2 separate regions of the Homo sapiens genome follow, and region 2 is linked to region 1. The links come from fine-mapping of genetic effects on gene expression. A gene starts in region 1. The other region holds a variant in brackets. All regions are shown on one strand. Distances are from middle to middle. Region 1 holds the start of PARD3-DT (PARD3 divergent transcript). Region 2 overlaps LOC107984221 (a long non-coding RNA gene).

The links.
Region 2: its variant is fine-mapped to the expression of PARD3-DT in esophagus mucosa (GTEx, PIP 0.97).

Annotation. Positions count from the first base shown.
Region 1 is chr10:34,806,593-34,821,253 of GRCh38, forward strand. PARD3-DT (PARD3 divergent transcript) reads left to right here and starts at 9,176. Exons shown (of 2, transcript NR_108043.1): 1 at 9,176-9,209; 2 at 9,528-9,830. PARD3 (par-3 family cell polarity regulator) reads right to left here and starts at 8,704. Exons shown (of 25, transcript NM_001184785.2): 1 at 8,284-8,704. The coding sequence starts at 8,403. RefSeq lists silencers at 2,909-3,203, 7,943-8,222, 8,743-8,912, 9,003-9,052.
Region 2 is chr10:35,581,790-35,599,087 of GRCh38, forward strand. LOC107984221 (a long non-coding RNA gene) reads left to right here. Exons shown (of 3, transcript XR_001747422.2): 1 at 1-63; 2 at 1,793-1,913; 3 at 2,246-4,557. Among named protein-coding and RNA genes, the nearest start is that of GJD4, 15 kb to the right of the region's middle. RefSeq lists an enhancer at 12,486-13,128. The variant C/T (reference allele first, on the strand shown) is at 10,507.

The DNA of each region.
Region 1 (14,661 bases):
AGCTCTGGGATTACAGGCGTGAGCCTTCTCACCCAGCCAACCCTAAGCAAAATTTACCCTAACTCTGAATAGCATCCATTTGACCTGGAGAGCAAGCCCCGTCATTTCAAAGTTGGGGGGGTCGGGGTGAGGCAAAATATTCTCACAGCATGGAGGGAAGCAGTAAGAGGTCCTGGACCCTGTATAACCATCTGAAAAGCCACTGCACATCACTTATGGTCCCATGAGCACCAAAACAAACCATGCAGAGCAGGAGTCCCTGCACAGCTCAGGGAACTGGCAGTGGGAGTCCAGCCCAGCACCTCTGAATATGAGAACATGGGGAAACAGAGGCTCACAGAGCTTGTAAGATTTGCCAAAGCTCAAAATTTCTGGGAGCCAAAGCCAAATGCTGGAAAGGCTGGTCCATTACGTGCATCCTTGGGGCATTCTCAACCTCCACTGCACAAAGGTAGCTGGCGAGCTGGGTAGAAGGAGTCTCTGGCTAAAGAACAATTGGTGAAGCCCTTAGAGGGGGTAGGGGGTAGCACACAGAGACCAGGGGACCTGGAGGCTCAGCAGCCAGGAGCTTACCAGACACTAAACAGGACACATTGGACAGGCCTGAGAAAGCAGGGATTCCACACTATATGGAAAACTCCTAAAGACAGCCAGTTTTCATTTGAAGTGTTTTGAGCATCTCTGATACACATATATATGTCATTTTATGAAATGCTCAGAACTACAAAATACCTAAAAATGGAGCGTTGTTCATAGTGGCTTATGCAGTCTATTTTTCTAACATCTTTATTGACATATAATCACATAACCATAAACTCCATCCATTGAAAGTATACACTTGAATAGAACTGTGCAACCATCACCATGATCTTAGAATATTTTCATCATCCCAAAAGGAAACCTCATACCCATTCACAGTCTCCATGACTCCAAACTCCCAGTCCTAGCGGAACACCACTCTACTGTCTCTATAGAGCTACCCACTCTGGTCATGTTATAGGAACAGAATTATACAATATGTGGGCTTGCTGCTATGAACACTGATGTACAGGTTTTGTGTACACATTTTCATTTCTCTTGTGTGCTTGTGTGTGTGTGTATATATATAAAGAGTATATATAAAATATATACAGAATAGAGTACAGAGACTATATACAAAATATACTCTGTTTAGGTGAAAAAAATAAATAATTGATATTTAAAGTCACTTGGATGTGGAGCTTGAAATTTTACTTGCAAGGACCAATATGAGTTGATGGAGAAAAAAGGAATACACAAAAGTAATATTTAAATGGCAAAAACCACGTAAAGATAGCAGGCCAGATGCAAGAAGGCACAGACCTATACACGAAAGTTATTTTAACTTTATTTACTAAAATGTTTACTTATTTACTAAATAAGTTAAAACAAAGTTATTTTTACTTATTTGCTAAAATTTAGGCCAGGCATGGTGGCTCGTGCCTGTAATCCCAGCACTCTGGAGGACCAAGGCAGGTGGATTGCTTGAGCTCAGGTGTTTGAGATCAGCCTAGCCAACATGGCGAGATGCCGTCTCTACAAAAACTACAAAAATTAGCCAGGTGTGGCGGCACACAACTGTAGTCCCAGCTACTTGGGGGACTGAGGCAGGAGGATCGCTTGAGCCTGGGAGGTTGAGGCTGCAGTGAGCAGAGATCACGCCACTTCACTCCAGCCTGGGTGACAAAGACCCTGTCTCAAAAAAAACAAAAGAAAGAAAGAAAAAACTTGTAAATAATGACTAAAAGACAAAAAAAAATCAGTCATCTTTCTACTTTATTCACTGAACTCGGCATTTATTTTGATAAAGATTTGCTTTTGTACAGAAAAGGTACCCAAAACAGGTAAAACTGTATACATTTACTGATGTCCAGCTCTACTGCCATTGACCTTGGTCCCAGCCAGGAATGTTGAGCGAGTGGCCAAGCAGGATGAAAGCATGCTGTGTGGGCTTAGCATGCCATCTCCCCCGATGGAAAATTACCTATAGAAAGCACCTTCTGGCCCAATCTTACATGTTTATTTCCATCCTTGATAAAAAATACCGAGGGCTCTAATCATCTATGGGGAGCTCAACATCACCAACTTGCACCCAACTCTGTGGGGAGGTAGAACCTCCCAGGACAGACGGAGGATCCGTCTGTGGGTTTGCATCCAAGTGGGACTTTAAATATTCCCTCCACAACCAATTTATCCATGTCTACCACAAGCCAAGAAGCGCTTCACATCCGCCAGATTCTCTCTGAGAATCTCAGATCCTAAACATTCCTACTTAGTCCTGGCACTCAGCCAAGCATCTCAACTGACGGAATCAGAGGCGCCAGACCAAGCATAGGTGTGTTCCAGGGCCAGATTCTCACACAGCCCTGGCCACCTGCCTTGAACCTCGCCCAAGGCGAATCCCAGGAGGGTCCTCTGCTTGAGCTGAAAAACAAACTGAACTCCCTCAAGACAGCTGATACGAAAGAGTAACTTCCAAGTACTCCAAACCTCATTAAATCTTAGTTTCCATTACAAGCTGTTTGTGCCAGTAGGTCAAACACACCAAACCTTAAAGTCCTTTAAATTCACGAGTGCTGATGATAGTCCTCTCAGCAGAAGTGTATTTTTTGTGTGAGAGCAGTGTAACATGTTGATTCTCAGCTTTCTATTTACTCAACATTCTGACTGCAATGTGACAGACACGGGCTATTCACCAAGACTGAAGCTCAGCCACCGCTTCAAGCATTTCACCCGGAGGGAGGAAGGGCGCACGGATACACTTGAAAACCACACAGCACAGCCCAAGCATCTGAGTCGGTACAGGAGCTACACCCAGGACGTCCCCAGGAGAGGCAGCAGGCAGGGAGAAAGATCCTCTAGCAGCTTGGGATGGAGAGCCAGCCTCCTGGAGATGGCTGTCTGGGCTAAGACTCACGAATGAGTGCAAGGAAGGAGCAAATGTCCCAGGCAGAAGAAACAGAAAATGCCAGAACAGAGGCAGCAAAGTGTATGTGAGTCCCAGGGGGTGGAGCAGCTGCAGAGGGAGTGGCTGGAAGGCAAGAGGGGTCCCTACAGGGACAGGCTGTGCTCAGAAGGCAGGACTTGGAGAACGCGGGACAAAGGCGCTTCAGCACCAGAGGACAATGTGACTTGAATTCTGGAAAGATCAGCCTTTCAAAAATGTTTAGTTTCTTTTTCCTTTTTAGAGGGAAGGCAGAAAATGTTAAAAAAATAAATAAATAAATAAAGCTGCTTTCATTTCACTATTTTTATGCTTGCCTCTATTTTCTTTCAATCTCTGCAACAGTACAACTATTTTCTTAAAAGTTTCAATACGCTTGTAAATGAATAACATGCAGTCATACATTTATTCACAGAAAAATTCCATACCAACCACAAGATTTTTCATAAAAACCATGACTGTCATTGTTACTAATCAACAGTCTCCCGCCACCAAAAAAGCACATTTTCAAAAGTTTCTGTCCATGAGCTCAACTTTTTAAAAAATACAGGTCAAGCATCCCTAATTGAAAAATCCAAAATCCAAAATACTCCAAAATCTGAAACTTACTGAGCACCCACATGACGCCACACCTGGAAAATTCCACATGTAAGTACTTACCACAGACTTATTTTCAAGCACAAAAATACTGCATAAAATTACCTTCAGGCTATGTGTATAAGGTACGTAGGAAACATAAATTCTAACAATACATTAGACTTGGGTTCCATCTTCAACCTATCTCATTATATATACAAAAATATCCCAAAGTCCAGAAAAATCCAAAATACTTGTGTGGTCCCAAGTATTTTGGATAAAGGATGCTCAACCTGTAATAACAACAGGTTGCTATTAAATCACTCTAAAGTGATGTGCTTGGGGACAGAAGCCAGAGGCCCCAATAATCAACCTGTAATCAAGCCAATACCCGCAGCTTTTACTTCCCCAGCCCATACACACATGCAACACACAATTTTGTTCTCCTGATTGTGGTGCTGCACGTCATTCAATCTCACATTCTTACCTATCCTTCAATGAAATTACATGCTGCGTTTTTAAGTAAACAGGAAAAATCCAAGCAGCAATAGTGGGACACCTGGGAAAGTTCCCTGGGTGTAAAACTGCTTGGTGGATAAAACATATTGGTGATTCCATTCATCTTTACGGAGCAGCTAGTATGGGCCGGGCCCAGGACTTTAGAGTTTCCCTCTCATCATCCTGTTTAATACTTACATTAACCCTGCCAGGGAATATTCCACTTGAGATAATGGGGCTCCGTAGGGTTGGTGTACCCAAGGTTAAATGGCCTGTAAACCTAAGTCACCAAACCCAATACAAAGCTCCCCTATACCCAAGGTTAAATGGCTTGTAAACCTAAGTCACCAAACCCAATCCAAAGCTCCCCTACAGGCTGAGAGGAGAGCTATGAGGGAGGTGGGAACAGTGAGCAAAGGGGCTCCAGCACCTCCTTGCCCTCACTTTTGCCCTTCACTCTCTCCTTCCCCTTTTGGTCACTCAGCAACCTTTATTTAGAATGAAATGCTAAGGAATTATCCATCCAAACCTCATCTAAGGTTGCTCAGGTCATCCTCCTAGAACTACTTGTTACCCTGACTCTTAGCTAAACACCACAGTCCTTCCTACTGCACGAAGTCTCAGGGTCTTGCCCTGGCATTCTGTCCTCCTCAGTTTGATCCTGACCCCCTGGGCTGAATGCCTGAATCGCCTTTGTCCATACTGCCTTCCTGGAATGCCCTCCCTTTCACTTATCAGAATCGTAGCAGACATTCTGCAGATTCACACACCTAGACCCCAACTGCAGACCTCAGACCCAGAGCCCATCTGCCCCTGCAGGCAGGTGCCTCACCCAGTTAGCAAGCACTGCCCTATATCAAGGTCAGCCTTCCCACCAACCAAGCCCAGTTCAAATCCTAGTGACTAAATGAGACTCCCACACACACCCCATAATGATAGCACCCACCTCCAAAATCCAGAAGCGATTACTGACTGTATCACAGTGGTGCCAATTAATGCTACCACCTCCTGTTATTTATACTGTTATATATTCTTCCTGTCTCCTAGATTATACTTTTTTTTGAAAATTGCACGAATTCAGTCTTATATTTTTTTCATAGAGCATGACTTTTTATACACAGCAGCCCTTCAACCAACCCCACACAGCGCTGCAGCTCAGCACCATGTCCACCTGGAATCACGCGTGTCAGGTCGCAAGCGCAGAAGAACAGATGCAGACACGGTCCATCCTCCCATCCTGCGCCCTCATGAGAACGGTCCATGTAACGCGGTTCCCAATGTCTAGCACCGCACTGTCCTCAGCGAGGCTCCTAATGCAGATGGGTGGATGAGGATGAACAGCTATTCCCAACCATCAGTGATCACAACCACAAAACCATCTTTCAGGAGAGGAAAAAAGAAATGTCACACATGACTAAGCATAAGCCTTCAAATATCTACTCACTGAGGACATGTCTAGTATTAAATCATGACACTTCACTATCCAGAAAAATTGATTTGTGTAATCTGAAGAGAAAACAGCTCACATGCAATGCCAGAAAATTAGCCCCACCACACCAGAAAATGTTTACTGCAGAGAAAGCCTTGGTGATTTGAGAGTTGGGACCTTTCTCTTTTCCTTTTTATTTTTTATTTTTGGCTTGGTTGGTTATTATCCAAAGCCATAAACATGATCTGCCCACACTTTTCCCCACCAGATGGGAGCTCATCAAGCCACATGTCACCTAGCAACCTAAACACCACTCCACAACTATCCAGCCACCCAATTCTTCACACAGAATTTCTCTTGTTCTATTAGGCAATACGGATAAGGAACAGATAGAGAATAAAAGTTAAAACAGTGTTAAATACATATTAACACTTCCTCATCACTTAATATAGAATGGGAAAAGTAGTAAGAAAGACTAAAAATTAATCTTAATCATTGTCTAGCAATTTCAGAAGAAAAACGAGAAAAAGGAGACCTAGAAGACACTCCAGCTCTGGCAACATTTAAGGGTCAACAATCTTGGGATCCAATGACTGAACTTGGTATACTGCAAAGCCCCCGTTAAAATTCACCTACAGAACTCTAAGTTGTACTTAAAGAGCATGTAAGTGTTGGAACCCCTGACCCATCTCTGACCCTCCCTCTCATCTCCAACTCCCATGTCACTATCACCCTCCCTTCCTTCAGCTCATAGGCCCCTTTTCTCTTTGTGACACCTTCCCAGACACCCTTAAAAAACTGCACTCCCTTTTCTACGCCCTGTGAAACAACCACTGCTAATCGTTAATAAGGACCAGGTCCGTGACCAAGGCCCTGCACTCTAGCCACCCAGCATCCCAGAGGCCACCTCTTCTCCCCATGTCATCACCAGCTCCTTCACCTGGAGGACCCCGCAGCCTCTTGCTCAGCTTCTCACAGCCAGTGGGTCCCTTAGATGTCCAGCACCCAGAACAGTGCCATGGACACAGTCAAAGCTTCAGAATTTCTGTGGAACGAATGCCTGGAACAACTACATTTGAACTACTGCCAAACAGGCAGTTCAGCCTATGTCTATTTTGTGCAGGATGAAACATGGGACACAGTAGGTAAAACAATTTTAATCACATAAAATTAGTAAAGTGAAAGAAAATGTTGACCACCCTCTTCCTATTCAGGAGCCTAGACGTACTGCAGAGTGCATATTACTTTATTTCTCTTTCCTTGCACAATTTGTTTTGTTGGTTTCCAGAGTGCCTGAACAATTTGAGTACTCTTTTGGAACATTTAAAGCATAAACTGTCACACATAAACAACACTTAAAAATGCTAAATGTCCATTTAGATGGTTTTCTTTCCCTTTGTCAGCTTTGCAAGATAAACAGGTGCCCAATTCCCACTAATTTTATTTGATTTTCAATAAAAGAGTTCAACTGTAAGGAACATAACAGAGCTACTAAAGCCAACGTCTTCCATCCTTGTGTCGGGTCTCCAAACGTCCCCCAAAATTATCTTTAAAAGGCCAAATTTATGCTATTTTTTCCAATATATACTAAAAGCAAAACAAAAGTCTAAAAAGCTTTTACTTCTTAATTTCTGAGAGAACTGAAGATGCCACCGGAGTACCCTGTGTACGCTCAATAGGGCTGACCAAGCCACTTTCCAACGTCATTTGCAGCCCCCAAGCCCACAGGGGCCAGGCCACTGTCGGGAACAAATGGGAAATACTGCACCCAAACGAATGCGCTCCCCACCAAAGAGGACTCTACTACAAAGGAAATATATCCCCGGGTGCTTGGGAGAAACTTCAGCGTGGGCTGTTGTCAAACACAGACACAGTCGGTAAAACAATTTAACAAAACGCCTTTTCACTTCTGACACACAGTAGAGGAATGCTGTGAAGTGGAGACAATGTTATCAGTCCACCAGGAAAAAGGGAAATCCACTCAACTCCCAAGTCAGGCCCGGCCCCGCAGCCCAGCCACATGGAACCAGCCCGGGATAGGTAGGAGCTGAGGTCCTCGCAGGAAAACTTTTCATTCCGCGACTCTTCCAAGGTTGTGCTTTCCAGAGCCCAGCAAGTGGGATCAGCTCAGTAAATGCTCGCAAGCGAGTGCCAAGTGCCAGCGGTGGCCCTCCCGGGAACGCCTCCCCGACCCCAAGCCGGCGACTCCCCAAACCCTGCAGCCCCCGGACGCGACGGGCCGCCCCTGCCGGCCCCTACCAGCAGGGGACATGGAGGAAAAGCCCCCCGCCGCTGTTCCGCCCCCGCCCGAGTAAGGGAGAGGAGGCAGAAGGCTCGCAACCCGCCTCTGTCGGAAGGGCAGTCACGAAACTCTCCTCACACCAAAAGTTCCCAGTCCCCGGCCTGTGCCCCCGGGGCCTGGGAGCCGGGAAAGGCCTGGGGCTGGATTTCCCGGCCTGCGCCCCCCGCGCGCTGGCTCGGGGCTTGGCTGGGTCTGCAGACTCCGGGGAGGCGCCCAGGGCCGGCCTATGCGCCGCTGCCCGGCTCGCCCCGCGCTACCGAGGCCGGAGCTCCCGGGCGGAGGGTGAGGGCGGGGGCCGCGGGACCCGGCTGGGTGTCCCAGAGGCTGCGCCCCGGCCCGCGCAGAGAACTTTGGCGCCCGCAGTCCGGGGCGGGGGGCGCCCGCGAGGCCCGACCGGCCGCACTTTCCCTTTCCCCGCCTCCCTGCGCCTCTCCTCCCCCTTCCAGGAAGCGCCATATTGATCCCGGCGCCGTCCCCGCCGCCGCCCCCTCCCCGCCCGCGCCCCCGGCCCCTCACCTTGGCGATGGCCTTCCGGTAGCGGGTCACCGCCTGCTGGATGAGGCTGAAAACTTTCATGTGGCCGTCCCCGCACGGCACGACCACCCGGGTCCGTCCGAAGCACACGGTCACTTTCATGCCGCCGCCGCCGCGGGCGGGCCCGCGCCCCTCGCCGAGCGCAGCCGGAGCAGCCGAGGCCGGGACCGAGGACGCTGGGCGCGGAGGAGCCGCTGGGGACTCGGGCGCGCGGGCGGCTAGGGGCGCGGGCAGGCGGCGGCGACGCCGGGGGGCCGCTCAGCTCGCATGCCCGGCCCGGCCGCCCTCGCCTCGCCTCGCTTCGCCCGGGGCTTGCCTCGCCTCTCCCCGCCGCGGCGCCCGCAGCCTCCGGCCACCTGTTCGGCGTCGCGGCGCGCTCGCCGGCGGCTGCCCGGGGCTGTGTGGCGCTGGCGCTCGCTCGGGGCCGCTGGGGGAGGGGACGGCGGGAGGGGAGGGGAGGGGAGGGGAGGGGAGGGGGAGGAGCAGGGCAGGGCACACAACACCGCGCACATGCGGCAGGGGGAGGCGCGGCCGGCTACCCGCGCGGGGCGGAGCGCAGGACCGCAGCTCGCGCCCCCGCCACCGCCCTCGGGGGCCGACCTCCTTCCCTCCTTCCCTCCCTCCCTCCCTCCCTCCGGGGGCGCGGGACCCCTCGCCCCAGTGCCAGCACGGGCAGGCGGCCGTCTGCCCCCACCAGCCCTGGCCCAGGCGCCCCCCAGCCCCCTTCACCCCGCCCGCCCAGCACCCTGCAGGGCTGCGTCGCCCCTCCTCGGGGACGCCCCTTCCACGCCTCCAGAAGTCTCCACGGAGCCCCCCTTCCCCTTTCTTTGTCACTTTTAATCCCATTCCTCGAACTGGAGGGTTTTGGGTGCAGGCGCTCCCGGGGAAAGCAGTTTGTGCTCAGTGCGGTGAGTCCCCTCCTCACCGCCCCGGAGGCTCCAGCCCGAGCCTCTCCGCCCGCGGGGACTCGAGCCTGCAGCTTGCTCGGCTGGGTTTCTGCCCTGCCCGCTCCCTAGCTCTGCTGCAGGGCCGGCAGCGGCAGTTCTGCCTGAAACGCAAGAATTAATAGTCTGCTCTGGGGAGACAGTGGGGAAGCCGTGAGCGACCGGGCCTTTTCCAGAGGCCACTATTTACCTTGAAGTTTCCTGTTGACCCTCTGCTGACCCACCCGCTTAAATAGATTAGAACTTAAACATCGCAATTCTGATACATTTATTTCTTTGAAGTTCTGCAGCATAAGGAATCCTAACGCGAATCCGTGAACAGTCTATTCCGACGGCGCAGAGAAATCTCACGCGGGGATCCCCACGATGTGCCGGCGCTTAACGCAGACGCCCGAACCCAGGGGAAGGCTGCGACTCCGCGATGAGTGACATGCGGGCTTGAGACGTTCTAAAGGAACGTGGACCGAGTTAGGGAACGTAACTGAAGCTCATTTTGTCTTAGTTATGGACTATGAGTCCTTAATAAATGTATGTCATTATGTTTAAAGAATGACAAATGTCTGCAAAGAGTGGTCCCTGTCCCAAGCCCTTTCCAGACTATGTGAAATTCTTTTTTGCCAGTTGTTTCCAAGACACGTGAAAGCAATCAAGCTCCCCTGGGTTGGCGCAGAACTTGAGCACTTAAGAGCTGGAAGAGCTGGCGATCGACCATCCATCCCACTCCACCTCCAATCTTAAAACAAGGAAACAAGACACGAGGTTCGTCCGCTTGCCACACTCCCTGCGCTTTGCAGCACCGCAGCTGCCCCAGCATAGTGCAGTTTCTCCTAGGAAACATTGCCCTTCCTCTCCTCTCCCAGCCCTGGACCACCACTTTCCACCACCTGTCCCAGCAAATCAGTGCAGTGGTGTTAGCCCCATCTTACTCCAGGACATTGACCCAGGGCCAAAGTCACTTGCCCAAGGCGGCAGAGAAAGCTCAAGGCAGACCCAGAAATAGTCTAGGTTTCCCTCCTTCCACTCAGCCATGGGAAAGGCTCCTCCTACTGCTGTTTGGCTGCAGCACTAGACATTTCTAGCCAGTAATTAAGTTTGTGACAACGATGACAACAACTGTTGATGTGGGTTTTTTGCTTCTTACATAGATACTTGGATCCACAACAACAATTACTGATAATTATAGGTGTTGTTTCTGTTTTCATGCATTGGGAGAGTATACTACTAGTTTAGAATGTATACTACTTTATTTTATTTTGTGTTTTTTACATTTATTTATGTATTTATTTTTATTTATTTATTTATTTATTTATTTTGAGACCAAGTCTCGCTCTGTTGCGCAGGCTGGAGCGCAGTGGCGTGATTTCGGCTCAGTGCAACCTCCGCCTTCTGGATTCAAATGATTCTCCTGCCTCCGCCTCCCGAGTAGCTGGGATTATAGGTGCCCGCCACCACGCCCAGCTAATTATTGTATTTTCAGTTAGAGACAGGGTCTCACCATGCTGGCCAGGCTGGTCAATCCGCCCGCCTCAGCCTCCCAAAGTGCTGGGATTGCAGCGTGAGCCACCGCGCGGCAGAGAATGTATACTAGTTTTGATGCTACACTAGTTCAGAGGGGTATACTAGCTTGAGTATAATAAATTAGAGTGGGGCTTTCTCAAAATAATTCTAATCGAAAGTCATTTTTCAGTAATAACCAGAGTACATAGGACATCACACTGATCTAGGTTCAGATCCATATTTGGCCACTTACTAGTGCCTTAGACACAACAGTCACTCTTTCTCCAGCCCGTTTTATCAGCTGAAAAGTAGAGAAGTAGAGCTTATCATATCCATATCCATCTCATAGATCTCATAGGTTATGAGTCAGTCTTTCTTTTTTTTTGAGATAGAGTCTTGCTCTGTTGTTCAGGCTAAAGGGCAATGGCACAATCTTAGCTCACTGCTGCCTCAGACTCCCAGGCTCAAGCAATCCTTCCTCAGCCTCTAGAGCAGCTAAGACTACAGACAAATACCACTATGCCCAGCTAATTTTTAAATTGTTTGTAGAGATAAGGTCTCACTATGTGGCCCAGGCTGGTCTTGAACTCCTGTCCTCAAGCGATTCTCCCGCTTCAGCCTCCCATAGTGCTGGGATTACAGGTGTGAGCCACGGCACCTGGTCATAAGTTATGAATGTTAAATAAAATAATGTATCAGAAAACAGTACGGCTGGGTATGGTGGCTCACGCCTGTAATCCCAGCATTTTGGGAGGCCGAAGTGGGCAGATACCTGAGCTCGGGAGTTCGAGACCAGCCTGACCAACATGGAGAAACCCCGTCTCTACTAAAAATACAAAATTAGCCGGGCATGGTGGCACATGCCTGTAATCCCAGCTACTCGGGAGGCTGAAGCAGGAGAATCGCTTGAACCCAGGAGGCCGAGGTTGCGGTGAGCCGAGGGCAACAAGAATGAAACTCTGTCTCAAAAGAAAAAAAAAAAAACAGTACATGCTGCCACGCTGCCACATGGGAATGTATAGCGTAGTACAGTCCAGTTACCGTAATGAAGGCAGAGGGTAACAAAGTCCAGCACAGGATAGCAAATGATGACAGTGGAGGAGGCAGGAGAGATGAGGAGGACAGGAGAAGACCAAGGCTCAAAGAAATGACTAGCCAGGTGATACAACTTTCCAGTGACTGGGCTAGGACTACAACCAAAAACTCCAGCTCTGACTCTCAGGCCTGCACTCAATTCACTTAAATTTGATTCCACATGCAGTTAGTAAAGACCTTCCTTGCAGGAAGCACTGGCTAAATATTACAGAATTATAAAGGTGAGTAAAAGAAGGACAATCTAGAGGTCAGAATAAGATAGCTATTCCAATAACTATAATTCAACACATTAAATATTCAGTGCCAGCAAAGTGTTTATGGCGGTACTAGAGAAGGGGGAAGCTTTCATAACAGAGATGACATCAGGATATGTGGATACCATTTTATGTACATCAATTCCTTTAACTATTCAATACCTAATAAGGATATGGATGTTTTTAAAAAATATGATCCAGAGGATTAATAACACTGATTCCACCAACCAGATAAAGCCTTACAGCTGTATTTAAATCTACCTAGTTTATCTAGATGCAGTGATTCCGTTTATATTAATAATGGATGAAAAACTAGTACTGCATAATTCTAGATGCCAGAGCCTTTGGTGTCTTGAGTCAAAATTCATGAAAATTTTTTTGTAATTCATAAAATTTCATGACACATTGGGAATACATATCCAAGTCCTCACCTGCCCAAATAGAGCCCCCTTCAAAATATTCCAGGGTTGCCCTCAACCAGTCCATCAGCAACCATCACCAAAGTATCCACTGCCTTTTTTTTTTTTTTTTTTTTTTTTGAGATGCAGTCTTGCTGTTGCCTAGGCTGGAGTGCAGTAGCACGATCTTGGCTCACTGCAACCTCTGCCTTCCGGGTTCAAGGGATTCTCCCACCTCAGCCTCCCAAGTAGCTGGGATTACAGGCGTGCACCACCACGCCCGGCTAATTTTTATACTTTATAGTAGAGACAGGGTCTCACCATGTTGGCCAAGCTGGTCTCAAACTCCTGACCTCAAATGATCCACCCACCTCAGCCTCCCAAAGTGCTGGGATTACAGGTGTGAGCCACCATGCCTGGCCCTTCTCTGCATTTTCGTTCTCCTGTTCTGGTTCCCAGACACTGCTGGAAGGTATGTCAGCACTGCCCTGCTGAGAGAGCCCACTTTGCAAAAACTTGAGTCCAGGCTGAGATCACCACTTCTAGAAGCCCCGGTGTCACCCAGCCTCAGAATGCCAGAAAAGGCCCATCCCTGCAGAAAGTAAGCACCCATGTTTGCCATGACCCACCACTCAGAGCCCAAGTCCCCAGTCAAATATCTCCCTCCTTCCCAGGTCCCAGAGCTGAAGAATGAGGTAGCTTGTTGGTGAAGTCCATGAAAGTTGGCAGAACAAGGTGGAGGCTGGCAGAGCAGGTGATATTAACACTCAACTCTGTTAAAGACAAATGTGCAGCAGAGTGGAATAAAGCCACCTCAGCCACTCACTTTCTGGCGGGCCACCTTGACTGGAGGCAGGATTTGGAAAGTCCAGTGATATGAAGAGGTGCTTCGTGGTGATGCTTTATAAATGCCAGTTCTAGCTGAGCATGGTGGCTCATGCCTGTAATTGCAGACTTTGGGAGGCTGAGGTAGGAGGATCACTTGAGCCCAGGAGTTTGAGACCAGCCTGGGTAACATAGTGAGACTCTATCTATACGAAAGTTAAAAATTAGCTGGGTGTAGTGGCAAACACCTGTGGTTCCAGCTATGAGGCTGAAGGATCACTTGAACCCAGGAGTTTGAGGCTGCAGTGAGCCATGATCATGTCCCTTCACTCCAATCTGGACGACAGAGTGACACACTATCTCAAAAAATAAAATAGGGCCGGGCACAGTGGCTCACGCCTATAATCCCAGCACTTTGGGAGGCCAAGGCAGGTGGATCACCTGAGGTCGGGAGTTCAAGACTAGCCTGGCCAACATGGTGAAACCTCGTCTCTACTAAAAATATAAAAAATTAGCTGGGTGTTGTGGCAGACACCTGTAATCCCAGCTACTGGTGAGGCTGAGGCAGGAGAATTAGTTGAACCCAGGAGGCGGAGGTTGCAGTGAGCTGAGATGGCACCATTGCACTCCAGCCTGGGCAATAAGAGTGAAACTCCGTCTCAAGATAAATAAATAAAATAAAATATAAATGCCAGTTATTTCAGCCTAATCTTTGAGAGGGAAGTTCAGAGTCAAGTTCTTCGGTGAGGCTTAGAGTGCTGGCCTTCTAGGTTGCTGGGGGAAGCCAAAGGTGCAGGTAGTAAGATTGCTGCTATTTGGGGGAATTTCAGCATTTGAACCAGGATTCTCTGGTGGGTAAAAGTCCATCCTGCCTTCCCTCTGAGGCAGGCATGGCTTTATCAGGAACATAAGGTACTGAAAGTTAATTGGATGTGGTGGCTTACACCTGTAATTGCAGCTACATGGGAGGCAGAGGTGGGAGGATCACTTGAGCCCAGAAGTTCAAGACCTACAGAAAGTTAAAAATTTGGCCAAGCATGGTGGTGCATGCCTGTAGTACCAGCTACCTGGAAGGCCAAGGTGGGAGAATTGCTTGAGCCCAGGAGTTGGAGGCTGCAGTGAGCTATGATTGCACTGTTGGACTCCAGCCTGGGAGAGAGAGTGAGACCCTATCTCTATAAAAAGACAAAAAAAAAAAAAAAAAGTACCAAAAGTTTTTTTTTTCTCTTTCTCTCTCTCCCTCTCTCTCTCTCTCCTTTAAAAAACTTTGAGAATGCCTGGGCGTGGTGATTCATGCCTATAATCCCAACACTTTGGGAGGCCGAGGCAGGCGGATCACCTGAGGTC
Region 2 (17,298 bases), 780 kb after region 1:
GGTCAGAGGCATGCAGATCTGTGTCAGTGGAAGAAACTGTGGAGAGCCAGTTCCAGCCACATGGTAACCCCTGACACACCCTGACCAGACTTTACGATTCTAAGAAACAAATGCAAGAACCACTCATTACATTATTTAAAAATTCCTGCCGTTATTCTGTGCAGTGGGCATCTGCATTTCCCACTTTTCAGCTGAAAGGACTTAGGGGAAGAGAAAGTAACTTGAGGGTGGCAGAGCCAGGATTAGAACCCATGCTGGTCTGATTCTGAAGTCACACTCACAATCACACTACCCTATTACCTCCCAGTGGAGTGAAATGAGATGGTCCATTGTTAAAAAGAGGTCTGGGGGGCCGGGCATGGTGGTTCATGCTTGTAATCCCAGCACTTTGGGAGGCCAAGGTGGGCGGATCACAAGGTCAGGAGATTGAGACCATCCTGGCTAACACAGTGAAACCCTGTGTCTACTAAAAATACAAAAAATTAGCCGGGCATGGTGGTGGGTGCCTGTAGTCCCAGCTACTCGGGAAGCTGAGGCGGGAGAATGGTGTGAACCCGGGAGGCGGAGCTTGCAGTGAGCCAAGATCATGCCACTGCACTCCAGCCTGGGCGACACAGCAAGACTCTGTCTCAAAAAAAAAAAAAAAAAAAAAAAAAAAAAATCTTTGGGAGAAAGAACAAACTCCATGTGATTTCTTAGATTTTCAGATTCTATCTATTAATTTTGCTTCCCTAGAAATCTTAGTGACTTATTTATTGATGACAGAGATGAATCAAGAAAATATTGCTTTAGAGACAGGTGGATCACCTGAAGTCAGGAGTTCGAGACCAGCCTGGTCAACATGGTGAAACCCCATCTCTACTAAAAATACAAAAATTAGTGGGGTGCGGTGGTGGGCACCTGTAAGCCCAGCTACCAGGGAGGCTGAAGCAGGAGAATGGCTTGAACCTGGGAGGTGGAGGTTGCAGTGGGCTGAGATCACGCCACTACACTCTAGCCTGGGTGACAGAGTGAGACTGAAAAAAAAAAAAAAGAAAGAATATACTGCTTTAAAAAAATCTTGTGAGTGCAAATTCCTTGCTTGAAAGGAATGAAGGACATATAAAAGGATTTTTCCACTAGTCACTGGACTATTTATTAGAGAACCTAGTACTAAATACCCATTAAAATATTTTCCTATCCATTGCCCCATTAGGTGTCTGGTTTGTTAATCCACAGTGCCTTCTTCATCCTTGACTTCATGCTCCAATAAATGGGACTTTGAAAGGCCCACCAGTTGGTAGTGGACAAGGCATTTTGCACATAAAATTGTACATTTGTGGGTGCTTGAGGTTTTTTTGTTGACATCTTTTTCTTTTGAGACAGGGTCTCTCTCTGTCACCCAGGCTGGAATGCAGGGCTTACTGCAGCCTTGACTTCCCAGGCTTGAGCGATCCTCCCTCCTCAGCCCCGCCCCGCAAGTAGCTGGGACTACAGGCATGTGCCACCACGACTGGCTAATTTGTTTGAATATTAGTAGAGACAGGATCTTGCTATGCTGGAGGCTGGTCTCCAATTCCTGAGTTCAAGCAATCCTCCCATCTTGGCCTCCCAAAGTGCTAGGATTACAGACATGAGCCACCGTGCTTAGCTGGTGCTTGAGGTTTTTAGGTCCAATTACAACATTTCATCTTTTTACTCACTAGTCAGCAGCAGAGATTGCTCACAAGAGAGTATACTGAAGTTCTGTATTTTATTAGATTGCTCACAAGAGAGTATACTGAAGTTCTGTATTTTATTATCTCCACTACAGGACCTTTACTTTTGCAAATTGCTTGACGTATTCCTCCCTGAAACTTTTGTAACGCTATAATTGTGTCACAAATATAAGCTCCAAGGACTCTGCTACAATAAAAACATTTAATGTGAACAAGGTAAGACAGGCTCTAAATCTTCCCCATGCCATTTTCATTTCCCCGGGCCTGTTTTTTTTACTTCACAGAGAATACAAATTTGGCCCACAGGAAAAATACATCCATGGGACCCAATCAGCCTAATTCAGTGCAACACCAACCTCATTCTGCTACTTTCCCTGATCAGGGATGGCCTTTATGCAGCTTCCCCTGAATGTCAATGATCAATCTCTTTGAACCAAATCCTGGGGAAATTTGAACGTCTCTAGCTGTTGAAATATCTTTGATTTTGTGAATAATATTTTCATATACTTATGCATCTTGTTCTCTGTGTAATCTGTTATAAAAATTAGAAGAGTCTCGGTATTCAATGACATGAAGACGTCTTTCCCAATCACATTCTGCCTGTACATGAAACTTGTCAGAGTAAACAAGTTGAGTTGACGGACAACCGGGTGCCCCTACGGAAACGTACTGGCAATCAGGCCTGTGAGCAGGAAAATGTCCTGAAATAACCGGAGCAACTGGGCACAGCGCACAACTTCCCAGCATTGCAGTTTATTGTTTTAGAGCCCGAGCCCCAGGCGGGATGCTCAGGACCTGCATTCCTTGGCGATTGGGGGAGATGGTAGAATGTTACAGATGAGGGTGCTTTACATGAGCTCACTCATTTGTGAGAGTCAACTCACTGTGGATTCAGGAGGTCTGAATGATTCCAGCCCTCTGGCTTTTCTTGGAGGAAGCCAACCCAGGCAAACCAATTGCCACCCACGGAGGATGGCTCTTCACCAAAACCCAGGAGGGCCCAGGCCCGAAGACTAGATTGCTCCAGCTTCCTATGGCAGAAAGAGGATGATAAAAATAGTTGATGTAGCAACCTGTCGTGCTGCCCAAGGTGCGTAACCTCATGCTTGTTTGGAAAGACTTGAACAGGTAGCTGAGGGTGCAAACAGGGCAGCTGCATTTGGAGAGAAGAGGATGAAAGAGGAATGAAGGGAGGCGGTGGGACCGGAAAATCAAAGGTGTGGAAAAGATGTGTTATGGTGGGTTAGGTTAATGGACATCTCCACTTCAACAAGACCTTCCACAAAAAAGCTGACACCTCGTGAGAAATCAAGGTCCCACTGCATCTGCAAGAAGGGAAGTTGCGTTTGGTGAGAGCCTGTGATACAAGTGATAAAGATGGAAGCTTACCTTTGAAGAACCACGAAATGCCTCCAATGGACAGGTCATTAAACAGCAGTTCATCTACTCGAGTATTTCCAGGGCTTTGTCTCTAGCTCAGGCTGTCCTCACATCCGTCTGTCAGACACCTCTACTTGACGGAGGCCACCCTTCCTCCCACTCCCTGGCCCTGTGTCCCACACCTGTCCCTTCTTAATGAGGGACCCCATCTGCCTGGGTGCCTGGGCCAGGAGGCTCCCTCCCCTTGGGTTGTCTCCACCCTCACTCATGCCCATCGCTCTGGACTTGGCCTCCTCAGAACCCCCGGGTTCCATCCCTGGCAGCCTGAGGGGCACTCACCTCCACCGCTGCCGCCTTCTGGGTCCTTCTCTTCACAACAGGTGATGCCATCTTCCTCAAATGCAGATCCGACTGTGTCACCTCCAATGGAGACCTTCAGTGACTTTCCATTGTCGATCGGGTAGAACCCACACTGTCCCAGGACCAAACAGGGCCCTGCTTCCACCCTCACCTTGTTCCCGCCCAGGCTTTGTTTGTCCTGCATTGCACACAGTGCCCGGTACCCCGCAGGTTCACTCCCAGCTTTAGGGCATTGCATGTGCTGCTTCCTGCCCATCACAGCCTGGCGACCCTCGCATCCCTTCGGAGCCTGCCACGCCTCTCCTTCAGAAACAGCCCTAACCCGGATACTGCACCCTGCTGCGCTGCTGACCTGCAGGTACCTTCCTGCATCCCATTCCACATGGAGACCCCCTGGGCAGAGGCTTGGCCCCGTAGTATCCCTAGTGCCAAGCACCATGCCCACATGTGCCACTCACTGAATTAAAACTAGCAACTTAATAAAGTTTGAACACTCAAACATATCACACACACTGGTCGCAGACATGCTGTGAAGGCATGTCACCTCAGAAAGGTTGCATTTTGACTCTTCCACCAAGAGTAAATGGCTGCAAGAGATTGGAAGTGGCTGAGCAGAAGGTGGTCTGCAGGAACTTCCCAGCGCCCACCCCTGCCCCATGGGAACACAGGTGGGTCTTTGGTGGTGGAAAACATACTCTGTAAATAGCCAAGTGAGTGCTATTATGAAGTCAGGGGAGACACTGTATGGAGAAAAGCTACAGAAGTGGAAATACATTAGCCAACCCGACTTCAAGGGAAATGACTGTCCCATGAAACTGGGCTGGAAATGCTCCAAGGTAGGCTGAGCTGGGACCTGATGCTGCGTAAAGAGCCCAGAGGGAAGGGTGAGGTGTGGAGAACTCAGACCGAATGTGAAGGGTGTGAGCACCCCATAGAAGTTCTGCATTGGAGGAACACCCAAAGACTTAGGGAGTTGGCATCCAAGTAGCTTGGAGGTAAGCTGAAGTTATTTCTTCTTCCTTTGTGCAAAGTCCTTCAAAAATATCTTTGATCTAAGCTCTCAGGCACCACAGGAACACACAAGCATTTGTTCTCAGCCTGGGCGTGTTCGGTGGTGACAGCAAAGGCACCTGCCCTCTAGAACAGCCTGGAAACAGCTGGCAGAGAAGAGACAGCCTGCAGCTTACCCCAGCCTCCGTGTGTTCAGGCTCCCCGGTGGTGTGTGCTCACTCTCCCTCCTTCCCTCCCTCTTTCTCTCTCTCTGTCACACACGCCCCCATACACCCCTATGTAAAATGCCTGTACCCCAAGAGATCAGAATTAGGGTAGGGTGTTCGCTGCACCACCAGTTCTGCTTCTGATCTGAGTGTCCAGGGTCAGGTTTCTTGTGACCACAATAAGTATTGCTTGAATTTCACACAATTTCCTCCCTCAGAGGTCCCTGTGCCTTCAGAGGACTATACAAAAAACACCCTCTGGAAGTGTGAGGCTCCTGCATGTACCTACGTGTGTGTGTGTGTGTGTGTGTGTGTGTGTGTGTGTGGTCAGCTCTGGGTTAAATGGAAAGACCACGGTCCTGGAAGAGGCAGCTCTGAGTCCAGATTCTTCTGTGATCTTGGGCAAATTCCCTCACTTTCTGCTAGGGCTACAAGAACAGAATACCTCAGAGACTGGGCGTCTTCTGCAGCAGAAACACCCTCTCACTGTCCTGGAGGCCAGAAAGCCGAGACAAAGGTGTGGGCACCGTTGGTCTCTCCCGAGGACTCTCTCCTTGGTTCGCAGATGGCGGCTTCCCCCGGTGCCTGTAGCATCTTCCCTGTGCACGCACCTCCCTGGTGTCTCTCTCTGGTCGTAATCTCTTCTTCTTAGGACACCAGTCAGATTGTATTAGGGCTCACCCTAATGGGCTCATTTTAGCTTCATTACCTCTTAAAAGACCCTGTCTCCAAATATAGGCACGTTCTGAGGTTCTGTGGGTTAGGACGTTAGCAGATGAATGTTGGGGGGACTTGTTCAGCCTACAGCACTTTTCTCAGCTTCATTTTTGCTCTTGATGTCTGAAGGAGTCAAGCCAGTGATTTCCGAAGTCCTCTCTGAATCAACCAGTTCTGTCTGGGAGTTCTGTCTGTCTCTCTCTCTCTCTCTCTCTCTCTCTCTCTCTCTCTCTCTCTCTCTCTCTCTCTCTCTGTCCTCTCTCCTGAGACTACAAATACTTAGGTGGCCGTGGCCATGTGGTTTTCTTTTTCTTTTCTTTTCTTTTTTTTTTTTTTGAGATGGAGTCTCACTCTGTTGCCCAGGCTGGAGTGCAGTGGCACGATGTAGGCTCACTGCAACCTCTACCTCCCAGGTTCAAGCAATTCTCCTGCCTTAGCCTCCCGAGTAGCTGCGATTACAGGTGCCCACCACCACACCCAGCTAATTTTTTGTATTTTTAGTAGAGATGGGGTTTCACCATGTTGGCCAAGGCTGGTCTTGAACTCCTGACCTCAGGTGATCCACCTGCCTTGGCCTCCCAAAGGGCTGGGATTATAGGCTTGAGCCACTGCACCCAGCCAGCCATGTGGTTTTCTTTCTGCATGTACCTCTCCATCTGAAGAGAACACCCCTCCCTCTCCATCTCTGTCAGTTGCTGGTGTTGTCATAGCTAAGGTCATCTGAGCTGTCTCCCTCTCTAGGTTGCACTTTAGAGTGGCAGTCAGGGAACAGAAAGAAGGCAAGGCTCACATGAAGGAAGATGGGGCCCAGTACAATGTGGCCCGGCGTGCAGGGCTCCTTGAGGTCCCAGGACCATTCCTAGTTAGGGCTCCACCCAACAGCAGGCCCAGGCCCACCCTGGCTCTGGGCACATCCTCATTGTGAGTGTGTGGATCAGGACACACACCCCACCCCTCAGGTCTCGACTGGCTCCTGTATCTGCTACCAGCCCCAGAATCAGCGAGTGTTACCACATTTTTTTTTCCTAAGAGACAAGTTCTCCCTCTGTTGCCCAGATTGGAGTACAGTGGCATGGTCATAGCTCACTGCAGCCTTGAACCCCTGAGCTCAAGCAATCCTCCTGCCTCAGCCTCCTGAGTAGCTGGGACTACAGGCATGTACTACCACGCCTGGCTAACTTGTTTTTCTATTTTTTGTAGAGATGGAGGTCTTGCTATGTTGCCCAGGCTGGTCTTGAACTCTGGGCTCAAGCAATCCTCCTGCTTCAGCCTCCCAAGTTGCTGTTAACTCCTTCTGAGCTGCCCCCCCTTACACTAAGGAAAATGGTGGATGGAGCTGTAAGTGCAGGAACAGAAAATGACCTCCTGTGGGGGCTGAAAGGAATTCTTGCCCGAAACCATCCTTTTCTCCTCTCAGCTCCAAAGAGAAGAAGCATATCTGTGTAGTTACTGTCAGAAGCTCATGCATATCCTGTCCTTGCTCCCTTAAATAATGGCTCCCAATGGCCATATTGAAAGTGCTGTACTCTGAGAGAACTTTGGATATCTTCAGCTCCTGGTTTGCCTCAGTATCCAATTTAACAGAAAAGAGAGAGAAACAGAAAGCAACTGCTTTTAGAGTTTGGTTGTTCCTGAGAAATGGTAGAAATGCCCTGCAATTTCCATCCTGTTTCAGTTCATTGCTAAGGCTTTCATTGAATAAGAGCTTAAAAAACAACAACAACAAACTGAGCCAAAACCAAAATGACATAAACAAAGGCACAGTTAATTTCAACCCATCTGTCTTTTGTCAGAAAAAGACCTTCTGTTTTTGATCACTCTGGCAACAGCATGGGTTTTGTTTTTTAACAGCTAAGTAAGAAGTTAGAAATAGAAGGAAGAACTCCACACCTGTTGCTTTTAGGGTCAATTATTTATTGATGTCATAAACTGCACAGAGGAAGGCATTTTGCTGCAGAAGCTAATGGAGCTACAGTGCAGTAGCTGTATCAATCAGCTCAGCTCAAGTATTTTATTTTTGTTGTTGTTGCTGTTTTTTGTTTTTGTTTTTGTTTGTTTGTTGTTTAAGACAGAGTCTTGCTCTGTCACCCAGGCTGGAATGCAATGGCATGATCATGGCTCACTGTAGCCTCGACCTCCTGGGCTCAAGTGATCCTCCCACCTCAGCCTCCTGAGTAGCTGAGATGACAAGCATGCACCACCACACTGGCTAATTTCTTTTTATTTGTATTTTTTGTAGAGGTGGAGCTTTGCCATGTTGCACAGGCTGCTGTCAAACTCCTGGGCTCAAGTGATCCTCCAGTCTCAGCCTCCCTAAGTGTTGGGATTGCAGGTGTGAGCCACTGCACCCGGCCCAGCTTTAGAAACAGGCTCAACTCTTTGGACTCTCCAGCACTCTATACCTACTTTCATTCCAGTGCCAAAATTCACTGCTTCCTTTGAGAACTTTATATTTGTTTCAGTTGTTAAGTTAAAATATTTTCACAATCATAGGAGGCCATCAAGTTTTGATTTGCAATCTGAAGGGAAGAGAGGGGATTCTTCATAAAGAAATGGACAGTATGTTACCCTCATTACAGAAGACATGGTGAGGGGTTTTATTCTCTGTGCCTCATGACGTCTCTCACAGAGACAGGGGTGTAATGCCTGCATTGTGAGAGGAATTTCAGGCATGGGGGAGAATTAGGTGTTGAATTACCAAGATGTTTCCTCACCTGTAAAGGCTGAGAGCCCCAAGTTTATAGTTTATTTATTGAAAAATAGAAGGCAGGCTGGCTGTGATGGCTCACGCCTGTAATCCCAGCACTTTGGGAGGCTGAGGCAGGAGGATTTCTTGAGCCCAGGAGTTTGAGACCAGCCTGGGCAACATAGCAAGACCCCATTTCGACACAAATTTTAAAAATTAGCCAGGCATGGTGGCACGTGCCTATGGTCCCAGCTACTCAGGAGGCTGAGGCAAGTGGATTGCTTGAGCCCAAGAGATTGGGTCTGCGGTGAGCCATGATTGCACCATGGCACTCCAGCCTGGGTGACAGAGCAAGATCCTGTCAAAATAATAATAATAATAATAATAATAATAATAATAATTGAAAATGGGAGGTAATAAACAGTATGGCATGCAAGATTAAAAAAAAATAGAACAAAACAACCTTTGTCACTGAGAAAAGCAATAGTTTACTCTTGCTAGTATAAGGATTTCTTATCATAAGCATGCTTTTCCTTGCAAATGGGAGAAAACTCAATGAATGAAAACAGAAATATTTTGGTTTCTATTTCTAATCCATGTCTCAATGCCCACAGCATTTCTGGAGAGCCACAGGGCTGGAAGCAGAGTCTTATTCTTTTGTAAAACTTAAGTCATGGAGAGTTAAAATTCTAGTTCATTTTCCATGTCTGTTCTTTGTCCTAGTTCATTCAGGCTGCTATTTAATAAATACCATGAACTGGGTGACTTATAAGCAACAGAAATTTACTTCTCACAGTTCTGGGGGCTGGGAAGTCCAAAGTCAAAGCATCAGCAGATTCAGTGTCTGGTGAGGGTGTTTCGTGGTTCCTAGACCCAGCAACTTCTTGCTGTGTCCTCACATGGCAGAAGAGGCAGGGCAGCTCTCCAGAGCTTCTTTGATAAGGGCACCAATCCCATTCATAAGTGCCCCACCCTCATGACCTGATCACCTCCCAAAGGCCCCACCTCCTCATATCACATCACCTTGGGGGTTAGGATTTCAACATATGGATTTGGGGAGCACATAAACATTCAGATCATGGCATTATTGTTTTTGTGATTTTTTTTTCTTCTTCCTTCTCTTCTCCTTGGTTTTCCAGCTCTTCCTTTCTCTTACTTTTCATTTTTGTTTCTTTCCTAAGTGTACACAATCTGCCCCATACATGATCATGTCCAGGTTGACTTTATCATTTTCATGGCCTGGTTAGAATATTTTATTTCAGGTTGCTTGCAGAGAGGCAAGCACACATCTTCATATAGCAAAGACAGATTACAGATTCATGGGAGGAAGTATCTTACTATATCTCTGCATCCCCAGGGTAAAGGTAAACTGGGATCGAGGTTGATGCAGATGATCAGGCAGAGGTTTCTGCTCATGGCCAAGATAGAATAAATAGTACTGGACTAGACGTCCCACTGCAAATAACTTAAAAAACTAGACAAAATATGGGAAGCAATAATGTTCGGCTATTGAAAACAGGCAGCAAAGGATCATGCTCTCTGACACAATGGAAAGAAATGAAGTAAGTCCTATGATAGTTTGAGCTTTTACCTGGAGGCACTTTTTGAATGGCATCCAGGAAGTATCCAGGTAGGGCAGAGGGGTCTCACTGAGTTGAGAAGCCACAGATCAGAGATTAGGGAGGTTGGCACAGCTGAGGTGTGTAGGGCGAGACACAGAGAGGAGGAAGCTATGCAGAACTCCAGAAATCTACGTCGAAGTCCTCTTGAGTCTTGGGCTGAATATTAAACTGTGCATGCAAAGCATGGAACTTTCTAAGTCAGGAAATGAACAGCTTTGAGTGGAAGCTTTAAGCTGAACAATTCTAAGTCTCACACAGGGCAAGGAGATATTTAAGTTCTGACTAGCTACAGTTGGGAGATCTTCTTAAACACCTGAGAAATTCAGTCAAGACTCAGGAAATATAAAACCCTGATAGTAGGGCTAAATTAGACCCGTTTTAACAAAGCTTAAAATTAGCCTGGGAAAGACCAAAGTAATACACAAACAACTTAACTGCCTGCCAAACCAAAATTTAACACTGTTTAAAGGAAGATAAAATCAAGACATTCAACAACATAACACATATAATGTTCAGCATGCAATAAAAACAACTAGACAGATTAAGAAACAAGAAAATGTGACCCATAATAAGGAAAGAAATCAGTCAGTATAAATAGATTCAGAAATAATAGATCTAGATGATGGAATTTACAGATGAGGAACTTTAGACCAGTTATTCTAAATATGGTAAAGGATTTAAAAGAAAACAAATATAATGAGTGGAATCATTACATTGATTCAGAAAAATATACTTCAGGATAAGAAATATTACTAGAGATGAAGAGGGACATTTCATAATGATAAAAAGGTCAATTCATCAAGAAGCCATGCAAATCTTAATACGTA[C/T]GCACCTGATAACAAAACTTCAAAATACATAAAACCGGCCAATCAGGAAATAACATCTATATCTACTGTTTTAAATTAAAAAGAAAAATTCCACACAGATATTTGCAAGGTGATTTTTATCAACATAAATTTATTAAGTACACTATCCTTGGGCATTAACCTAGGTGACAGGAAAACACTTTAACAGATTCGACATTGGTCTTAAGAAGCTCAAATAGGGTTGAAATACAGAACACACGCACAGAGATTAAAAGATTAAAAGACATGTGTCATGTTGTATTTTCCTTAAATGTTTGCCTCTCCATTTTTGAATCCAATAAATCATTAAGCTCTTGTTGGCTGTTTTCCATCTTGAAGTATTAGTGCTTAGCCTTACAAAGTTTGAGGTAGCTGCTTAGTCATCCCTGCTATGTTCAAGTGTCTACATAAGCCCCTCCTAGGGTCCACCGGAACCCACAGAATTGGAAATCTAGTGGAGATTCATTGTTAACATTACAGAAGACATGGGACTAGCGATCTCCTTTGGGGTTCCAGTTAGGCTTATACTGCAGCTGCCACCCCACTTTCTACCATTCTTCAGGCAAGTAGTGAGCTATGAGTGCGCTCACATTATGAAGAATACGTCTTGAAAAAGGAAAAGGATTAGTGTTCAGGGTGATTCGCACTCGTTATAGTTAAGCCAGCAAGGCCTCACTTAGGATGAGAGAGGAGCCACCCCTTGGGAAAATCATTTATATATATGCTTTATATACACACATTTAATCTTTTAAAATTCAGTCCCATTTCCCAAGGAAATTGCCTGGAGGTAGTGTTGGGATTAGAATGGATTACCCTAACAGAGTCTTTTCATAAACCCAAACTGAGCTAACAAGAAGGGCTCTGTGTTGCCTTTTAATCATCCGTTGAGTTTTCTTATGCCAGCTCTTTCCAAGAAAGATTGAAGTTGCTTGCCAGCATGCCTGCTGTAGATCTTAGCTTGTTCCAGAAAGGAGAAGCAACTTCTCAAAGATTGTCTCTTATAGTCTTGCCTGACAATGAGAGCTTCTCCATGACGCTCTCCCTGGGTCTCCCAGTGGCTTCTTTGTGTCAAGTGGGAAGAATATGGACTTCGGAGTCAAATCAATTGGGATAGAATCCCAGCCTTGTCATCTACAGCCTGCGTGGTGTTAGGCAGTTGTGAAATCTCACAGAGACTTATTTTCTTCTCTCTAACTTACCTCACCCACAGGCGTGTGTGTGTAATGCAAATACCATTCTTCATCGTGTGAGTGCACTCATAGCTCACCACTTGCTTGGAGAATGGGTAGAAAAACGGGGTGGCCACTGTGGGACAAGCCTAACTGGAACCCCAAAGGAGGTCTTCTGTAACGTTAACATGAGTTTCCACTAGATTTCCAATTCCGTGGGTTCCGGCAGACCCTAGCGTGGGGGGCATGTAGACACTTGGACTAGCAGGGATGACTATGCAGCTCCCTCAACCTTTGTAAGGCTAAGCGCTAATACTTCAAGAAGGAAAACAGCCCTAGTTGTCTCCTTCTTGCTCTCTTCATACTCTATTATAGACCTTACTATTCACTATTGTTATGCGGCCATGTCTTCTGCCTCTGGGGACATGGGAAGCTGGTCACTGTTCTTGCTGTTGGAAGTACACTCAACTGCCTCCCTCTCCTACAGGGGAAAGCCTGCGTCTTACCTGTTCGCAGTCCCGACACATTGTCCGGCACACTGCAGATGCTCAGTGTGTTATTGTTGAAGGCCACTCTCATTCCTTTTCAGAAACACTCAATAATAAACTCTCATTCCTTCCTTTAGGGAAGTGAAAAACAGAACAACAGAAAAGCAAAAGCAAAAGGCTCCTTCCATTTTCTCCTGTAGCTGCCTCACAGAATGGGTCCTCTTTAGGCTGAGGCCGTCACACTTCTGTGGCATATGGGGTGGGGAGCGTCCATGTCAGGCCCAGTTTTTCCCCTCACCGGCTGGGTGGCCTTGACCATCGAACACAGAAGTGAAGTGCATGTGCACCCACCAGGGTTGGTGGCTCACGGGGGACCCAGATCACACTCATGGGTATAAAAGTGATCCTTACGACAGTGGTGCCACCAGATCCAACTCTGTCCCTTCACCCAGTCGATTTGAAGCTGTTGTCCGTTTTTCTCATACTTAATTTTCCTACTTTGTTGTTTGTCTTTGCTTTCATCTGGAAATAGAGCTTGGTAATTGCATTGCTGGTTTCCGTGGAGATCCAGGCCATAGCCACTGCATTGCAGCAAACAAAATGGAATGTACCCTACCTTCCTTTCATTTGTGTTCCTTAAGAGAAAATTTGAATTAAAAAGACCTCCCGAGATCACCTGTCTTTCAAATTGCTGGTGCAGCTGGGCGCAGTGGCTCACACCTGTAATCCCAGCACTCTGGGAGGCCAAACGAGGATTGCTTGAGGCCAGGAGTTCATGACCAGCCTGGGTAACATAGTGAGACCCCTATTCTACAAAAATAAATAAGTAAATTAGCAAGGCATGGTGATGTGTGTGCCTGTGGTCCCAGCTACTCAGGCTAAGGCAGGCAGATTGCTTCAGCTCAGGAGCTTGAGGCTGCAGTGAGCTGTGATTGGGCTACTGCACTCCAGCCTGAGTGATGATAGGCGGCAGAGGAAGACCCTGTCTCTAAAAAACCAAACCAAACCAAACAAAACAAATTGTCCCACAGGGTGGGACATTAGCTCAGAGATAAATTAGCTGTCGCCTGTGCTTCAAGACACTACTGTCTGGCCCTTCTGAATATATCCGCATTTGGAACAAACCTCGTCCTGAATCAAAGTGGCTGTGAATGTTTGGAGGGTTGGCATCTAACAGTTGTGAGTTTTAAAATGGATTGAATTCCTTCATTCCCTCTTCTAATATTTCACGGCAGAGAACAAAGAGAACACACAGAGGGAAAACGTGGACTAGTTCCTCTCTCTTAACAAGACTAATCATCTGATGCTGAAGTCACCATGATCACAGCTGCCTGTATCTCTGTTCCCTCCCCTCCCTTCCTCTCTTCTCTTCCTTCCTCTCCTCTTTTCTCCCTCCCTCCCTGCTTCCTTCCTTCTTTCCTTCCTTCCTTCCCTCCCTCCCTTCCCCCAACCCTTCCTTCCTTCCCTCCCTCCCGCCCTTCCTTCCTTCCCTTCCTTCCTTCCTTCCCTTCCTTCCTTCCTTCCTTCCTTCCTTCCTTCCTTCCTTCCCTCCTTCCTTCCTTCCTCCCTCCCTCCCTTCCTTCCTCTCTCTCTCTTTCTTTCCCTTTCCTTCCTTCTTTCAGTTATTGTCTAAAACGTAAAAATGAACAGGAGGTCGATATGAGGACTCACTAATCCTGAATTTGGCCTTGCTCTGTGTGATGCTGGAGCTCTGCAGCATGGGAAAATATCCGTGACATCCCATTGGCCCCCTTCTCCACCCCAGGCCCTTACCTTCACAGAAAGGCCTGCTTCCAGGAGCAGTGTTTCTAACTCACACCATAGTAAAGATGACTGATAAGACGTAGTGAGTTGCCTCTCCCAGAGATTTTAATTTTTATCACCCTTAAAAGCCAGAAGACCTCAAGTATTTAATATTTGATGTTAGACAAGAGGCATAGGTGTGTTGAGGCAGGAGGCCCTACCCAGGGTCCGTAAGCTGCCTGCCTGTTATCCAGAAGGGAAGGAAAACAATCATTTACTTTTTTTTTTTTTTTTTGAGAAAGAGTCTCACTCTGTCACCCAGGCTGGAGCGCAGTGGCATGATCTTGGCTCACTGCAACCTCCGCCTCCCAGGTTCAGACGATTTTCCTGCCTCAGCCTCCCAAGTAGCTGGGATTACAGGTGGGCACCACCGTGCCCAGCTAATTTTCATATTTTTCATAGAGATGGGGTTTCACCATGTTGGCCAGGCTGGTCTCGAACTCCTGACCTCAGGTGATCTGCCTGCCTCGGCCTCCCAAAGTGCTGGGATTACAGGTGTGAGCCATCGGGCCTGGCCTCCTCCATCTACTTTTACTACTTAGAAAAAAAGAATGTAAGAAGAAAGCTTTCTTAATAAGTCCTCATGTGCTGTCACATAGTGGGGTGACATAGTTAACAATAATGTGTTCTATATTTCAAAATAGCTAGAGGAGAGGATTTTGAATGTTCCCATCACAAAGAAATGGTAAGTATTTGAGATGCTGGATATGCTAATTATCCCAATTTGATCATTACACAGTCTATACGTGTATTGGAACATCACACTGTACTCATAACTATGTACAATTATCATGTGTCAATTTAAAAAGACTAACTTCTTCAATGGTATATACAACAAAGAGAATAAAACACGATAACTTAAAATTTTGAAAAAGCAAAGCCTGCACTGCTTCCAAGCAGAGAGGACCTCCCTGCAAACATACAGTGCTGCCATTTGTGAAATGCTGGTTGCAAAGCACAGAAGAACTCCGGCTGGCAGTGCATTGCCTGTGGGTGTTAGCGCTCGTGGGACAAGCACCCTCCATTCAGGGGTGCTGCCACTGATTGCTGGGGAGCTGTGCTCTTGGAAGGCCTCAGCGGGTCATGGAATCTGTTCCATCAGAGAAATAGTGCAACACACTTTTGCAGATAATTAAGATTTGGACAAATGTCTGGCCATCGGGAGCCCTAGGCTTTGGAAAGGGCTGTGGACACAGAGAGGTCAGGACCGAATGGTTGACAGTGAACATCCCATGCCAGGGAACGTTGAATCAGGAAGGGTTCGAGACATGAGAAATAGCCTCTGGTGTGTTGTGACTGCTTCATTCACTGAGCAAAGAGAAAGAACCACTCCAGTTGGTTGGCCATGCCAAAAAAGGCCAGCCCTGTACACACACAAAAAATGGACCATGTGAAAGAAGTATGAACGACAAGAAGAAGGCCAGGCGTGGTGGCTCACACCTGTAATCCCAGCACTTTGGGAGGCCGAGGCGGGCAGATCATGAGGTCAAGAGATTGAGACCATCCTGGCCAACATGGTGAAACCTCATCTCTACTAAAAATAAAAAAATTAGCTGGGCGTGGTGGCGTGTGCCTGTAGTCCCAGCTACTCGGGAGGCTGAGGCAGGAGAATTGCTTGAACCTGGGACGCGGAGGTTGCAGTGAGCCGAGATCATGCCACTGCACTCCAGCCTGGTGACAGAGTGAGACTCCGTCTCAGAAAAAAAAAAAAAAAAAGAAACATACGAAGCAAACCGAATTCTTCCTACTATTTATCGGATGTTTCTGCTGTGCTGGGCAGTTTACACTTGTTAGTTCGTTTCATTCTCTTACAACCCTGAGAAGTAGGAGCTTTGATTATCCCTGTTTCACAACTGAGTGAAAAAGATTCAGGATCCGTGGGGGACTGAGACTGGCCGGACCTCTTCCCAGCGTATTCTCTCTACTGTTGATGAAGTGGAGCTGACTTCCAGCTGAGGGGCAGTGAGTGCAAAGGCACATCTTGGCCAGGGAGGACTAGAGCCTCACATGGTCTTGGGCTGGGGGTGGCAGGGCAGAGAGGCTGGGCAGGGCAGGCATTGCTCTGACAATGCATGTGCTTCTTGTCATAATGAGCACCGCAAGAGGAGGACACCCAACCCAGTCTTGGGCAAAGGAGATAGAAATCCCTGGGAGCCAGTCACAGAGAGGAAACGGCTGTGGCAAGTCTCAGAGGCAGCAGAGATCAGAGGCCGTGCAAGGTCAGTGCCATTGCAGGGTCGGGGGGAGTAAAGGGTGAGGCCCGAGAGGCAAGCGGAGTCCAGGGCTCGCAGGGCCAGGCAAGCTCTGTTTGGCACCATCAGTGAGGAGCCACTGAAGAGCTTTAAGCAGTGAAATTTTAAAACATACCTCACGGACACTGAGTACTAGTTTTCTGCTTGGGTGAGATGGATCTTGGTGCCACTCACCTAGAGAGAGAACCTGTGGCCGGGCGAGGTGGCTCACACCTGGAATCTCAGTGCTTTGGGAGACTGAAGCAGGAGGATCATTTGAGGCCACGAGTTCAAGACCAGCCTGGGCAACGTCATGATTAATGGCAAAAACCATAATTACTTCTGTGTCAACCTAATATTTGCTGAAGGTCAAACACTGGTCAGCAATTGGAACCAGAACTGAACCCACGTCCTCTACCCTTGAACTTTGTGCTGTTTTCTCCTAATTACTTCTTTGACTACCAGTGACTGCTTGATGAGTACTTTTTTCATTGATTTGACTCTAAAAATGAATATTCCCATCCGTGAAAGGAACAGTGTGTTTGTGGCCAGTGCAGAGACCCCTGCTGGACACCTGTGTGTTGGAGAGAAAACGACGCCTGGGAATGCTTCCACCAGGTCCCTGCTGGGTAGTGTCACTTTAGCCTGCGAGGGACAGGTGACACGAGTTACAGACAGGCTGCAGGAGGTAACTTGGTCCATGTGCATACACTATACAGAATTTTAGGGCATTTTAGTAATTTTCAAAATGTGCCATGCAGCCACTGGTCCAAGTGAATTAGAAAAGAGAGCAGGAATTCATCAGGGAGGGCTCGTGGTCATAACGTCCACGTGGCTGCCCCTTCACCGGCTTCTGTCTTTACTCAAATGTATTCTTCTTAGGACACTGGCTACCCCATTAAACCTTGGCATCCACTACCCTCCTTAGAACTTATTACTAACAGTCAATTTTGCTGAAGACATTTATCTTGTTCTTTGTCAATTCTTCCCACTAGGATGTAAGTTCAGTGAGGGCAGGAATTTTTATACTTCATTCTCTGCCATTTCCCTAGTGCCAAGAACAGTGCTGAAGACACAGCAGGT